2 separate regions of the Homo sapiens genome follow, and region 1 is linked to region 2. A link means that fine-mapping ties the variant in region 2 to the expression of a gene that starts in the linked region. Tissue or cell type: lung. Region 2 holds a variant in brackets; the other region holds the start of a gene. All regions are shown on one strand. Distances are between the middles of the regions.

Evidence for each region. PIP is the estimated chance that this variant, and not a neighbour inherited with it, causes the effect.
Region 1: it holds the start of SLCO2A1, and the variant in region 2 is fine-mapped to the expression of SLCO2A1 in lung (TOPMed, PIP above 0.99).

The regions. Positions count from the first base shown.
Region 1 is chr3:134,025,684-134,033,822 of GRCh38, forward strand. SLCO2A1 (solute carrier organic anion transporter family member 2A1) reads right to left here and starts at 4,242. Exons shown (of 14, transcript NM_005630.3): 1 at 4,024-4,242. The coding sequence starts at 4,119. RefSeq lists an enhancer at 4,237-4,737.
Region 2 is chr3:134,809,859-134,817,858 of GRCh38, forward strand. The region is part of intron 1 of EPHB1 (EPH receptor B1); the gene reads left to right. Among named protein-coding and RNA genes, the nearest start is that of EPHB1, 19 kb to the left of the region's middle. The variant G/C (reference allele first, on the strand shown) is at 3,515.

The DNA.
Region 1 (8,139 bases), 780 kb before region 2:
TCCACCTTCAGAAAGGAAAAAATGGCCCTTCCTGTACTAAGGGACAATGTAACCCCTTAGAGCTAGTAATAACCAATCCCCTTGATCCTCGCTGGAAAAAAGAGGAGCGTGTGACCTTAGGAATCAATGGGGCTGGACTGGATCCTCGAGTAAATATCTTGGTTTGAAGAGAAGTTTACAAACGCTCTCCTAAGCCAGTGTTTCAAACTTTCTATGATGAACTAAATGTGCCAGTACCAGAAATTCCAGGAAAAACAAGAAATTTGTTTTTGCAATTAGCTGAGCATGTTCTCTCAATGTCACTTCATGTTATGTATGTGGAGGAACTGTAATAAGAGATCAATGACCATGGGAAGCCCGAGAATTAGTACCTACAGACCCAGTTCCTGATGAATTCCCAGCTCAGAAGAATCACCCTGATAATTTCTAGGTCCTAAAAGCCTCAATTATTGGACAATATTGCATAGCTAGAGAAGGAAAAGAATTTACTCACCCCATAGGACGACTTCTTTGTCTAGGACAGAAACTTATAATGGTATCACAAAAACAGTCATTTGGTGGAGTTCTAATCACACAGAGAGAAATCCATTTAGTAAATTCCCAAAGTTGCAAACCGTGTGGACCCACCCGGAGTCCCACCGGGACTAGACAGCCCCCACTGGATTATACTAGATACGTAGGCATAGAGCTTACGCCAAATTACCTGACCAGTAGGCAGGTAGTTTTGTTATTGGCACTATTAAACCATCTTTTTCCTACTGCCCATAAAAACAGGCGAACTCCTGGGCTTCCCTGTCTATGCTTCCCGCGAAAAGAGAAGCATAGCTATAGGAAATTGAAAAAATGATAAATGGCCCCCTGAGAAAATCATACAATATTATAGGCCTGCTAGGCACAAGACGGCTTGTGAGGATACCAGACCCCCATTTACGTGATCAACTGAATCATACGGTTACAAGCTGTCTTAAAAATAATCACTAATAAAACCGGCAGAGCCTTGACTATTCTGGCCCAGCAAGAAACTCAGATGAGAAATGCTACCTATCAAAATAGATTAGCTCTTGACTACTTGCTAGCAGCTGAAGGAGAGGTCTGTAGGAAATTTAACCTTTCTAATTGCTGCCTACATATAGATAATCAAGGGCAAGTAGTTGAAGACACAGTTAAGAGATATGACAAAACTGGCACATGTGCCTGTGCAAGTGTGGCATGGATTTGATCCTGGGGCCATGTTTAGAAAATGGTTCCCAGCGCTAAGAGAATTTAAAACTCTAATAATAAGAGTTATAATAGTAATAGGAACCTGCTTACTGCTCCCTTGTTTGCTACCTATACTTCTTCAAATGATAAAAAGCTTCATCGCTACCTTAGTTCACCAAAAAGGTTCAGCACAAGTGTACTATATGAATCACTATCGATCTGTCTTGCAAGAAGACACAGGTAGTAAAAATGAAAGTGAGAACTCCCACTATTGAGTGAGAATCTCAAAGGAGGGGAATAAGGGAGGAGACCACCCCTCATATTGTCTTATGCCCAATTTCTGCCTCCAAAGAAAGAAAAAGTAAAAACTAAAAGGCAGAAATGAAATCCACAAGCAGACAGCCCGGAGCCGCACCCTAGCGCTGGTAGTTAAAGATCGACCCCTGACCTAATCGGTTATGTTATCTATAGATTACAGACATTGTACAGAAAAGCACTGTGAAAATCCCTATTCTGTTTTGTTCCGATCTAATTACTGGTGCATGCAGCCCCCAGTCACGTACCCACTGTTTGCTCAATCGATCACGACCCTCTCAGGTGCACCCCCTTAGAGTTGTGAGCCCTTAAAAAGGACAGGAATTGCTCACTCGGGGAGCTCAGCTCTTGAGACAGCAGTCTTGCTGATGCCCCCGGCTGAATAAACCCCTTCCTTCTTTAACTCAGTGTCTGAGGAGTTTTGTCTGTGGCTCGTCCTGCTACACCACCATGTCATACATGTCCCAAGATATGTGCAACCCATCCCCCACTGCAAAGTGGCAGGGCTATTACAAGCACTCTCATTGGGAGGAAATATCCCTTCAAATAGCAGAGCTCCCAGTTATTGCCCCAGGAGGGAAAGGTGCAAGTGACTTTAACTGATGGAATTTGAGATTCAAGATTTACCTTAAGCTATCCAACCTCGTACCTGGTTTCAGGCTGATAAGTGGAGTTAAATGGAAGTCCTCCAAACTCTGGTCTTGCAATTAGTATGGATCAAAGGAGGTGATGACTAACAGAATCTCATTTTTAGAGTCAAGAAAAACTCTTAGCCAGTATGAGTACTTAACTCCTTTAGGAGGCCAATTGGCCTGAGCCCAGCCCTCAGGTACGTGTGGTTAAATCATCAACACATGAGAAATCATCTTATTTATATAGATCTCCAAATAAATTGCTGCCATAAACATTTATTTTAGGGAACCAGGGTGGGTCTAAACGGATCAGTCTCATTCAGCTGTACCCTCACTGTCAGGAATCTGTTCTGGACACCCGTCCCTCCTGCCCTTCTTGGTGAAAATGAAGTGAGGTTGCCCCACCCTGGTTCCTGCAGAGGCCCCTTTCTTTACACCATCTAATCCTAGTCCCTACCCTTTCATCTCAATTCCTAATTTATAAATACCAAAGGTTCCAAAATTCCTGATGAAATTTCTCCAAAATGGTGGAACCAAAACTGCGCACAACATTTCCATCCAGGTCTGGCCAAAAATGAGGAGATTTGGAGATTATTTTAAGCTATCTCAAAATTTCTGTTGCTTATCCATATACAACTACAAAATCAATTCAGCCTGTATTTATTGCGGTGCGGAAAGAGCAGAAGCAGGAGTGGAGATCCCAGCTGAGTAAGTATGCAGGTGAGATCCACTCTGACCTCCAGATCCCTTTCTGTTGGACACATATAACCAGTCCACGGACACCCCCATCATCCCTTTGTGTAATCTGGCTTCCCCTTAATTGCACCACCGGAGGCTTTACTCAGTCCCATCTGACTGTATGTTTGTGGGAAACAACCTCTCTACACCATGATCCCACCCTGACCAGAAGGGGCCTTGATGCAGTCTCTGCAGTCTCCCACATCCTCACCGCAGCAGCTTTGGCCTCTCAGGAGGTATCTTCCATTGTTACTTCTGCCTAGGCAGAACGGGCAAAAGAGCCCGAGTGCGGATTGAACCATTCCAGGTCCTCCTGGACCTGTGAGGGAGTGGAAAGCATTTCCGACCCCATGGGAAAGGTGCTCTCATCCTAACAGCTGCCAACACCCTATCTTCTCACCCGCTCCCCATAACTTGCCTGGTGAGTGGACCTGCTTAGACCTTACTGAACCGTGAGAGCTGTGACCTTCCTGGGGCCATTTCCAGACCAGGGAAGCCAATCTGAGCACGCGGGTTGGTTGCCAGCCTGGGGAAGCCGCCCGCTGAGAGGGAATTCTAAACATAACTGCGAGCGGCACAGCCAGGTAGCAGAGCCCCCCGCCCCCGTTGGCGGGAGAAGAAAGCCTGGGGAAGGAGAACATCCCTTAGGCCACCCACCCCAGGACGAGGGGGCTCGGACGAGACACAGTCTGTCCCCCAAAGCGCGGGGGGTCCCCCTGGCACCTCCAAGCCCATCCCATTGACGAAGTAACCGCCCGCTGGAGGCCGAAAAAGCGTTCCTCGAGATGATCTTTTTCAATCATCGAGGACAATTCTCTCGCTTATAACTCTGCCTGGAGTTGTCCGAGTAAGCGGTAAGCAGGTACTTCCACTGTCCCATTACTTAGTCCGATGAAGGCGTGTGAACACACACACACACACTCGCACGCACACACACACGCTCACACACACACACGCTCACACACACACTCGCACACACACGCCCAGCACGCGTCGCCCGGGGATGAGATCGGAGCGCGGCACAGGAGGGAGCCCGGGGCTCCCGGAGCCTCCTGGCTCCGGCAGACAGAAGCGGGTGCCCAGCCGAAGGTGCGCCAGGCGCGGCTCCGGCCCGGAAGACCCCGCGGACTCCGCTCACCTTAATGTTGCCGAAGACCGAGCGGGCACAGCGGCCGGCTCGGCTAGTAGAGGTGTCGCTGCCCTGGGACGCGCCGAGCTTGGGCAGGAGCCCCATGGCTGCGGGCGGCTGGCCGGGCGCGGAGTGGCGCGGGGTCGGGGCGCCTCGGGCTGGAGCGGCCGGGCGGGTGAGAGGCGACCGCGGCGGCAGTGGCCGGAGGAGATTCGCGGAGCGGAGACTGAGCCAGCGAGTGCGCGCCTAGAAGTTTTTATAAGTGGCCGCCGCCGATGATGAAACGCGCTCTCCCTCCTCCCTCTTTTCCTCGGGTGTCAAAGGCGCTACGAGCCCCCGCCCCGCCGCCGCCGCCGCCGCCGCCCCCTCAGACAGGTGTGACGCCGCAGCGACCCGCGAGGCTTGACTGCCCCGAGAAGATCCCGCCTGCCGGGAGGCGGAGAGGGAGGGAAGGAGGTGGCGGGCCCGGGGAGGGGAGGTGAGGGCTGTGCGGGGGCAGGAGGTTGCAAGGGGGTGGAGGTTCCTGGGGACTGGCGAAGAGAGGGTGGGCGAAGCGAAGGTGGGTGAGTGGAGGGGATGGAGAAAGAGGTTGGCAGGGCTGGGGGGCAGGAAGGCTGGGATATGAGGGTGCCCGAGGCGGGCGCTGGAGGGGCCAACGTGAGCCGGGGGTGGAGGGGAGCCCCAGCACCCCTCCCGACGTTCTTGGGGAGATTTACGGAGCCAGTCTCTGCTTGTTTGCACTCGCAGAAAACCTGGGCCCTCAGTTCCGGTGATGGCTCTGAGACTCGCTGCAGCTCTGTTTGTGTTGAGGACTGATTTATATTTAAACTGCTCTTTGCGCTGGAGAGGGGGCTGGGTAACAAGGTGAAAAGGTGGGGGCTGGGCCCGAAGTCTCTGGACCTGAGCCAAGGTAAACTGCAGGGGCTGTCAAGTGTCAGCATGGCTGGGTCTGGCCTGGGGTGCTGGGGGGAGGGGTAGAGGGGGTGGGGGGGGTGTGGACAAACAGGACGCACCCCACTGACCTCCTTCTCAGTGCTGGAATGAATAGTGGGTTTATTTTTTCCCCAAGATTTTCTACTAACAGGATTCCAAGCGCCGAGAAGAGACAGTGAGGCTTCTCAAGGGAAGGATAAGAAGGTTCTTCCAAAAGCAGCTGCAGTGAGGAATCCAGCTCTGGAGGCATTTTTCCAGCTCCCTCACTTCTGTAGTCCCGTGCAGAGGGAACCTCTCCAAGCCCACCCCAAACCCAGGAAAAGATGCCGTCAATATCCAGGAGGCTTTGGCTAAGACAAAGGCCACAGGATAGATAGACCACATAGGCTTCTTATTCTACCCAAGACCTGATACCTTTCTGGGCCTGGTCTGGCCTGGCCTGGGCTTGGGGGCTTCTATCCACCTGCGACCCAAGTTCCCTGGACACGGCAGCATTCCAAAGATGTTGAACAGTGGGCAGCCTCTGGCCTCTTCACTCAGCCACAGAGCGAGGTACATCCTGACAGGCTTTCCACAGCACTGTAGCAGCCCCAGCCCCAGCCCCAGAGGAGGCATGAATTCCAGGTCCCATCTGTCCACTGGGAGAACATGGCACACAAGGACAGGTACCAGCATGGAGCACTTGGTGTGTGCTGGGCATACCAGGCCCTCTGCTGAGCACCCACATGCATGATTTCATGAAGCCCCAACGTTAGCCCTACAGGTATAGGTACTGATGGAGTCTGGACTCCACAAACAAGGATGCTAGAGCAGTCGGCTAAGAAAGCTGTCTGAAAGCCACACAGCTAGCAAGTGGTGGAGCTGGACCCTGAATTCAGCCTTGTCTGACTCCTAAGCCCAGACTTGAAGCACTATGCCTTCTGATAAGTTGTCTAGTCCAACAGCCCCATTTTGCAAGTTGAACCAAACAGGGACCAGAAAACCCCCAGGCCAAGGTCACAGACACCTTAGGGCTACCATGCCTGGAGCTTCTTTCTCAAACCCTGAGGCCTCACTGTGATCCTCTGGTAGAACCCCTGGGAGGATCAGCCTCTCCAGCCCTCACCTAGTCCTGTTCCATTAACCTGGCCCTCTGCCTCCCGTCAGCGCCAGCATCATCTCCAAAGGAAAAGCCTATTCAGAAATGCTCACAGATGCTTATCTTCCTTCATTGACCTTTACTGGGTGGAGTTCAGCTAAATGTAATGGAGAGCCAACCAAAATGACTTAAATGAGATTTATTTGTCTCTCAATAATTAGAAGTCTGCTAGTAGGTAGTCCAGGGGTCATGACCTAGGCCCTTCAAGATTCCTTAGCCTGTGGTTCCCATCCCTGTGGCTGGCTCATTGTCACAAGATGGCTGCTCCATCTCCAGCCTCCTCTCCTAATTCCAGGAAAGATGTGGAAGACAGGAAACAGGAAGGGGCCATGCTTACATCAAGGGAGCAAATCTCTCCCTTGCGTGCACAGTTGCTTTTACTTAAGTCTTCTTGGCCAAACCTGGGTCACATAGCTACCCCCTGCAAAGGATGCTAAGAAGTGTAATTAACACTATTGCTGTCCTCTGAACAAAATTGGGGTTTTATTAGGGAAAAAGGGAGAAATAATATTGTGTTTTACATTTTCAACACCTACACATGGAGTAACCCATTTCCTTTCAAGAGCACTCCTAGAGTCGGTCTCCCAGACTTTCCATCCTTAAATTTCAGTAAATATTTCCTAGCACTGAAAAAATACAAAAAATAGGCTGGGCACGGTGGCTCATGCCTCTAATCCCAGCACTTGAGGAGGCTGAGGCGGGCGGATCACTTGAGGTCAGGAGATTGAGACCATCCCGGCCAACATGGTGAAACCCCTTCTCTACTAAAAATACAAAATTAGCCAGGCATGGTGGCAGGTGTCTGTAGTCCCAGCTGCTTGGGAGGCTGAAGCAGGAGAATTGCTTGAACCTGGGAGGCAGAGGCTGCAGTGAGCCAAGGTCGTGCCAGTGCACTCCAGCCTGGGCTACAGAGCAAGACTCTGTCTCAAATAAATAAATAAATAAATAAATAAATAAATAAATAAATAAATAAATTTTAAAAAAAGCTAAACCACAAGAACATCTCCTGACCTCAAAGACTCTATGGTCTCAGGGTGGGAAACAAGAAGAGAAAGTGTGGCTGTGATGTAGGAAGAAAGCTATTGTGCACAGCTGCTATGGGAGCATAGAAGTGGAGCCCTAATGCACCTTGGACAGCAGGAAGACTTCTAGGAGGAGGCGACTGTCAAGCTGAGCCCTAAGAACTAGTAGGATTGAGAGGATTAGGGTAAAGAGGGTAAACCTACTCCATGGTTTCAGTCTGGCTGGAGCTCAAGACCAAGCGCAGTGGGTATGTGTGTGTGAAGCAAAGAGGCTGGGAGTTTAGGTTTTCTCCCCAGCACAATGGGGAGCCGTTAAAGGCTTCTAACCAAGGGTGACCTGGGCTAATTTGCATTTCACATGGACCTCTCTGGCAGCCAGAGTGGAATTAGGTAGTCTGTGGAAGGAATCCCAGGAGCTATGATAAAAGCTGGCATGGCAGCAGTGGGATGGTGGTAGGAAGGAGAGAAAAGCTTAAGAAATGTCAAAGCGAGGTGGCACCCACATATCAGTGAGAGGAGAGATGTTAGTGATGACTCCCAGGATCTGGCTTGGGCAACTAGCGTTGGTGATGCCCACTCCTGACAGAGGGGGCCCAGAAGGAGCAGTCACTATTGAAGGAAGCCAGTGAGTATCCTGGTCACATTTGAAATTCAAATTTCCCAGACTATACCCAAGTAAAGATCTTCAGGAGTCAGATGGGTATATGGGTCCAGCACTCAGGGTGGACACTGGGCTAGAGATATGGGCTTGGAAATCCCACGTGGAGGTGGTGGTTAAGCCTCAAGAAGGGATGAGTCTCCTAGGGAGACTGTGTTGATGAGAAGTAGGTCCAGGATGGGCCACAGCAATATCAAGGTGGCACAAGGGACGGAGCCAGAGTGGAGGAAAGTAAACCAGGGGAGGAGGTGTTGATAGAGCTGAGGGTACTCTTTCAAAATGGAGGAGGGCGGGCACATGGCCAGGCTGCTGGGGAGGCAAGAGAAGGCCTGAGGAGTGGCCACCAGGCTGGCAACGCTGGCATTGAGGAACTT
Region 2 (8,000 bases):
CATTGGAAGAGAGTCCTGTCTTTGGACAGGCAGCGAATTAGGTCCATTTAATGGATGTGGCAGCTGAGGTTCACTAAGGAGGAATGACTACCACAAGATCAGGCAGGCAATTGGAACATGCCAAGGAGAGATGAGAGCTCAGGGCACTGCTGCTTCCTAGTCCTTGCTCACATACTGCATCCTGCTAAGAGAGACCCATTTGTCAACTATTGTGAGCTTTCAACATAATGGAAGTTTTAACATAGGTATGTGACTCTGTTGATCTGAGGTCCTAGGAGATAAATCTTCTCACCTAACCAGAGCACAAGAGTAACTGCCCAAGTGAGTATGCAAATATGTATATCACCTGGTTTCTCTGGTTTTTGGCAATTAACATTCTTTCCATTCACGGGCTTGAAGCGTGGGTAGCACAGGAGGAGTGTGTGTGTGTGTGTGTGTGTGTGTGTGTGTGTATTTATGCAGATGATGTAGACAGACAGTGACACTGGACCATTTAGCAAATTAGAATATTCTGCCCTGAGTAGGTGGTGCTGCTTCTTTAACAGCACCAGGCCTCCACCACCAGGGCTCACTGGCATAGAACAGCCTGGCAAATGGAAGACGCTATTCAGGAAAGGACAATGAGAACAACGCTCATTCTACAGGAGGACTGACCTTTGCAACTCCCACTTCACGTTGTTATTAAATATCTGGGAAAAGACTGAGAGAACAATTATAGTATTGTCATAATGTATCAGCGTACAAAGCAAGTGTTTCCAAGGAGGCTCTGGTTCAGCTGAGCTTGACAAAGCCGGGGACTCAGCTATAGCACTTACTAATTTAGAAGTTGTCTTCATTACTTACACCAGCTGAAAACTCCGAATGTTTTGGGTGCAGTTCTGCCATCGTGGACTCCAGATAGGAATGGAAAGATAAGATGTTGGGAGCAAAGGGTGGGAGTCTTTGGGTTTCTATGTGTCTCTCTGCTAGGCTTGAGTGTGCAGTCCTAGTTGCAGCCATCTCTCTCTATATATTTAGCCTAAGCCTAGCAGGGTACTGGTTCTCAGGGGTCCTCCTGAGTATTTGCTGAGTTGAGTTGGGTTAAAGACTTTCATAGGAGGGAGAGTGAGCGACTGCTTTTCCCCAGAAGGGGAGTCCCATAAAGGACTGTGAGGGCTCGTGTGGCCCCTCCCCCTTTCCCACATTCCCAGCTGATCTCTCACTTCCCACCTAGACATGCCCACAACACCCTCTGCACAGGTTAGCCTCCCAGGTGAGAATTCCACTCTCAGGTCTGGGGGCTGGGGCTGTGGTGTCCAGGTTCTCACTATCACAGAGTTCTTGCAGCTAAACCAGCATTTCTCAACCTTATTCCTTATTCTCATAGTTGCCCCTACTAAGAAGGTTTTTTTTTTTTTTTTTTTTTCTGTCTTGCTCTGTCCCCAGGCTGGAGTGCAATGGTGCGATCTCAGCTCACCGCAAACTCTGCCTCCCAAGTTCAAGCAATCCTCCGGCTTCAGCCTCCCGAGTAGCTGGAATTATAGGCGAGCACCACCATGGCTGGCTAATTTTTGTATTTTTAGTAGAGACGGGGTTTCACCATGTTGGCCAGGCTGGTCTTGAACTCCTGACCTCAGGTGATCCACCTGCCTCTGCCTTCCAAAGTGCTGGGATTACAGGCATAAGCCAATGCGCCCGGCCTAAGAAGCCTTTTTAAGACTTTTTTTTTTTCCTGACCACCCCACACCCTGTGAATGTTAATAGCACAGATATTGTGGACATCTGTTCATGTACTGAGGCCCTTTGGTGGGCCACAAACCGTTATAAGATCTAAGACTTTTTAGTCTTCCTCCTTGCCAGGAATCAGTTTTCACCTTTGCTGAGAATGCATGATCTAAACACAATAAACCTGGCAGCGACTTAGTGGGCCCTCAGCCGAGTTAGAGCTCAGCTTTGCACCATCTATCTTTTCCAAATCAGTTTTACCCAGTATGGCCCTAAACAGTCGGAAAGGATGTCCACCTTAGCTGGTCCAGGAGGCCCCCTATTGAGCAGGTATTAGCCCTGCTGTTGGATATCCTAGGGAGATCCAGAAGGACCCAGATAAGGACGAGAGCACAGGAGTAACTCAGAAGCCTTGGGCAGGAGTGACTTGCCAGTAGGTGTGGAAGCATTTCAGGATTTTAACAAGTACGGACGGCTATGCCAGTGCCTACTCGCTGAATGTCTGCCCTGACTTCAAGGGATGTGAAAATAGTTACTTGAGTTGGGGTCCATTTTTGGAAAAAAAATAGGCTTTCTTGAAGCATAATTTACATATAATAGGTTTTAGATGTACAATTCCGTGAGGTTTCACAAATGAGTGTGGTCATGTAGCCACCCTACACACCTGATGTAGATCGTTCTCATCACCCTCATGTCCCTTCATGGTCATGTGCCTCCCTTCACTGCTGACCCTTGGCAACCACTGATAAAATTTCTGGTTCTATTGTTTTGCTTTTCTAAAAGCTCATAGAAATGGAATCATAGAGTATGTGCTCTTTATTTGTTTGACTTCTTTCACTTAGCATGAGTATTTGAGATTCATCCATTTTGTGGCATGTGTTATACTTTCTTTTTATTGCTGAGTAGCATTCCATTGCATAGATATCTCACAATTGGTTTATCCATTTCACAGTTGGTGGACATTTGCTTATAGTTTTTGGCTTTTATAATTAAAGCTACTGTGAATATTTGAGTACATGTCTTTATGTGAACACAAAATGAAAAATAGGTGTTCATTTTGTTTGGGGAAATACCTGGATAATATGGTAAGTGTAAGGTTAACTTGGTAAGATACTGCCAGTCTGTTTTCCAAAGTGGCTGAAGTGTCTTGCATTTCCTCCAGCAGTGTATGAGACCCCCAGTTGTTCCACATCCTCACCAGCAGTTGGTATTTTCAGTCTTTAAATTTTAACCACCCTGGTGGGTGTCTCATGGCATCTCATTGTTTGTTTTCGTTTGCATTTCCCTGATGTGTCTTTCATGTGTTTATTAGCCACTCATATATATTCTCCGATGAAATGGATGTTTAGATATTTGTCCATTTTTTTTGTTGGGTTTTCTGTTTTGGGTCTGCTTTCAACATGGACGGTTGTCTGGAGGTGACAGAGTGACCCCACTCACACTATTTCCAGACAATTTGGGTTGCCCTGTTGTGCCGAGAAGACATAATTTGTACCTGTGCTGGGTGGGTCTCATTCCTGGAAGTGGGGAAGAGTGGGCCATGATCTTCTCAACATGGATGGTGGTTTATGATCAGGGAAGAAATATGCCCCCAAACAGGGGCCAGGACCTCAGAAAGTGGGCTTTTGTTAGGGGAGTGTGTGCGCCTCAGCAGGAAGCCATAATTCACATGACCTGGGATTGTGCTACTCTGTGTTTATTTCCCATACATTCCCTCCAGTTCCAATCTCATCTCCATCACACTGCTCAGTAGAAAGGAAGGGCATTCTCCTGCCTCTACTTGGCATTGCAGGAGCAGCTGTACCTCCAT[G/C]GTGGTGGCAGCAGAAATCAGCTAGAAATTCCCAAGGGTCCTGCTTCTCCAGGGACAGGTATCTTTTGGTTTGGGGCTTTCTTTTAGAGAAGAAAAGTATAATTTTTCTGCACAGATTGTCCTGTGAATGGTGGTCTGAAACCATGCAGAGGAAGCACCCCCTAGCCCAGCCCTGGACTCTCAGGACTGGGCCCATTTGATAGGACACTGTGAGTGTCCGAGGCTGTTCATCACCTTTTTCTCAGCTGCTCTGACTCCCAAGAGGTTTCCAGCTTTTCTGGTTCTTGTTGCATTCAAGCCATAGAGAATGCCTTTGGCTCATTTCTTAGCTTTCAATGACAGTCTCAGGATTCTACAGGCTTTCCAACACTGGGGATGATGTAGGCACTTCAGCCATGTTTGCTGTTATTTGCATGATGACAATCAGTGATCACAGTAATCATGGGGGAGGTGACACATGACAAGGATGCAAAGGCTGCAGTGGTACCATCAGGGCCCATCAGCTGGGCCCTGTGTCACTTCCCACAAGCACCTTTTATGCTCAAAAGCAAAGATGCAGCTGATGCTGACGCTGCATCACTTCTGGCTCTGAGAAAAGCAGGCACCCCCACTGTCTGAGACTCCCTGAGGGCCCCCAGAGTCTACCCCGGGGCCTGGCACAGAGTAGGCACTTAGTAAATGATGGATGGATGGACTGAACTCCTGTCACACTGCCCAGGATCACTCAGGGAGAGGCTGATGCGCATGCCACCGTGGCAAGAAAACCAGGGACTTGTGGCAAACAGAAGCAATGGAAGCATAGGAAACCTGAATGTCTGGTTGTGGAGATCAGACTGATATACCTGTTGCTGGATGGAGATACCTGAAGATGGTTCAGGCAAGGAATCTGTCATTGAAGAGACTTTTTGCTAGGGTATACTTATGGATAAGCTGGGCCTTGAACATGTAGAGGGGAGAGTGATGAGGATGCATATCATGAGTGAGAAGTAGCAGAAGCAGAAGCAAGGAGAAGGGAAAGAAAAGGTACCTGAAATAGCAATTACATTCAAGTAAGTGCTCCGTGATATAGCCAGGGGCTCGGTGATGTAGGAGGTCAGGGGACAGTTAGTTTAGAGTGGGCTATGGTAACCAGGATGGCTTCCTGGAGGAGGAGGTACCTATTGAAGGTATAGTGGATTGATGCTGATAGAAAAGGCAGGGCATAGGAATTCTCTTCTCAACAGGCTTCCCTGTCCTGGGCCAGAATCATCCGAAATGGGGAACCTGCAGAAAAGCCTTCTTCAGTGACTTGTGCCTCTCTGTCTTGGACTTCCTGGCTCTAGAAAGCCCAGGAGGAGTTCCTGTGAGGGAAGGCTCTGCATCTTGTTGCGTCCCAAGTCCCAGGGTCCAGTTGCCATTGCAGACGAAGCTTCATTCAGAGGAAAGCAAGTGCATCTTGTGGTGGTCTGGACCAGCTCTTCACAGACGGTCTTCTTTGGTGTCACCACTCGGTGTGTGGCCTTTGGGCCAGGGCTTGGGTTCCCATGGGAGTTTGTTAGAAATGCAGACCCTCAGACCTCACCTCAAAACAACTAAATTCAGTTGTGCCTGGATCGAGAGTCCCAGTCTCTAAACTTCTGCATCAGGGAAGCAGCCTCTTTAAATAAATTAACAAGCTTATTTTGAGCAATTTTTAAAAAGAGCTATCCTAGATTAAAGAATACTTAAGATTCATGACAAGTTAATGTAACAAACCCTATACTAAGAAATTGCTTTAAAGGATATGATTTGGACAACAAACAAAATTGGAATATAGCCTTCCAAAATTCAGGGAGTGGGTCTCCTTAGATGAAAGTATTATAACAAAATGTTAATATTTCCAAATTTGTAACTGCATTGTGGTCAAATAAGAGAATATTCTTGTTCTTAGGAAACAAATATTGAGGAATTAAGGAGTAAATGGCCATGATGTATGCTACCTGCTCTCAGGTGGCTCAAGGAGGAAAATAAACAGATGAATGTGTGTATATAATATAATAAATGTGTATATAATAAAATATATATGTAATATCATATTATGATATATCCTATTGTACCATAAAATATATGTGGTGAGGAAAGAGAAGATGAAAAAGCAAATGTGGCAAAATGTTAAAAATTGGTGAATCAGGGTAAAAGGAATATGGGGGTTTCTGGTTCCATTCATGCAACTTTCTTGTGTGATTGCTATTTCTTTAAAATAAAAAGTTTAAGAAAACAGTGCGCCTTGTTTCAAAGTTTGATGGATGTTGCAAGTTGCCCTCTAAAAAGGCTGAACCAATTTATATTCCCACAATGCTGTGGAGGGTTGGTGCAGCTGTTTAATGTAGCTATTTTTATTCAGCTATTTTGATGCCAGGGACTTTCTTTGATGGGGTCATATATCAGTTTTGACCTGGGGACATTTTGTTGTTTTCCAAATTTATTATGAATATTTCCAAAAGTATAGAAAAGTCAAAAGTATGCTGAAGTGAACACCCATGCCACAGCCCCTGCCCCTAGTTTCAACAGTTGTTGTTATTGTGCCATATTTATTTATCAGCACACATTTGTTTTTTGGGGGGCATGGAAATTGGGATGCAGAAAGATTAAGTAACCACCAAAGGTAAATGCTGGGGCCACACGCCGTGTCCTCTGCACGTTGTCCTTCTGCCTCTGAGGTACTTTTTTTCTTTTTTCTTTTTCTGTTTCTGTTTTTTTTTTTTTTTTTGAGACAGAGTCTTGCTCTGTCACCCAGGCTGGAGTGCAATGGTGTGATCTCGGCTCACTGCAATCTCCACGTCTTGGGTTCAAGCGATTCTCATGCCTCAGCCTCCCGAGTAGCTGGGATTATAGGCACACACCACCACAGCCAGCTAATTTTTTTGTTTTTTTTGTATTTTTAGTAGAGACGGGGTTTCACCATGTTGGCCAGGCTGGTTTCGAACTCCTGACCTCAAATGCTCCGCCCACCTCGCCTCCCAAAGTGCTGGGATTACAGGTGTGAGCCACCGTGCCTGGCTGGATTTTTTTCCTGAAGCAGTTGAGTGTTGGATTCAGACAGGTCTGGATTTGAATTCCACCTCTGACACTGAACAAACTACATAACCTCCCAGTTATGGCCTCTGTGTGTTCGTCCCGTAAGTGGGGATGGTGGTACTCACCTCACATGATCGTTGTGAGATAGATGAGATAAGGTGTTTAAAGCCCGTGGTAGTTATTAGTATTGTCATTTCTTCTGTATCTCTCTTTTCATTTGAAACAGATTCCCAGGCACCCTCCTCTGGGAAAATTGATCCCTAAATCATTCTTCTGCTTGCCAATACCTTGTCTGGCCCATCTATTGCTGGTGTGTAGTCCTTGCCTACTCCCATAGACTTGGAGGGCCAATGTTCTAAGCAGCTTAGAAAAGCTGATATTCAGGCACGTGTGCTGGGGCGATGTTCAGTAACCTGACATGACGTATCATGGCCAAGAGTCGCAGGCGTCTCAGTGGTTAGGCAGCAGGGCTTCCTGGGGCACTCACCCTCAGTGTGAGCAGGTCTGGACGAATTCCTAGCAGACCCAGCAGAGCAAGGAAAGGGCCTGTGGACCACTGCTGCCTTCTCTGCCGTCTCCAGGACTTCCTCCCATCTCACCAGGATTCCAGTTTGTGGGAAAAGGGAGGAACAGGGACTAGGGTAAGAAGAAGGAGGCAGCCACTTGGAGCAAAGTTTAAGGGGGCACTAAAGATTAATCAAGGTAAGTAATATATGAATGTAGTTTTTTTTTTAAATCAAATTCTGTAAACCATGGACTATGGGCTGCCTGTTTTTGTAAATAAAAATAAAGTTTGAAGGCCCCAGTCAGCCCATTCCCCTCTCTGTGGCCCCAGGAATTGGGGGGCACTGGACAGTGTACTCACTGACATTTTCTCTCCTCTGTAGAACAATGTCAGTATTGCCTGCAATTCTAGTCGTCACAGCTCCTTCACCGTTTAGAGGGCCGGGTGCCATGGCTCACCCAGCACCTGGTTCTCAGGCTTCTGGCCAGCGTGGCAGAGCTGAGGCCATGTGGAGGGCTGGAAGTGGGTGGCACACTTCCCTGTCCTGGCAGAGGAGTGCACATGGAGCTCTGTAGTTTCTGTCCCCACCGTGGCCTTAGACCTGAAGGTATGAATCCATGCAAGAGGCTGCTATTGGGAGTCAGAGAACTGGCTCACATTTACCAGCTGCGTGACCTTGGAAAGCCACCTAATCTCTCTGAAGTTTCATTCTCAGTTTCATTACCTGTCCATTGGGGATGATGTGGTCCAACCTCTTTCTCTTTGAGCTCTTCAGTAAGAGGTTGTTGAGTAGGAATCAGAGCCCATGTATGGGAAATGCTTTGTAAACTGGGATGTGCTCTGGAAACACAAGCTGTTCTTATAATGGTGGTTACGATTGATTCTGGTGGACAGCTCCTGGCCCAAGCCTGGTGGAATGGTCATCCATAGAGGGAAATGAGATCC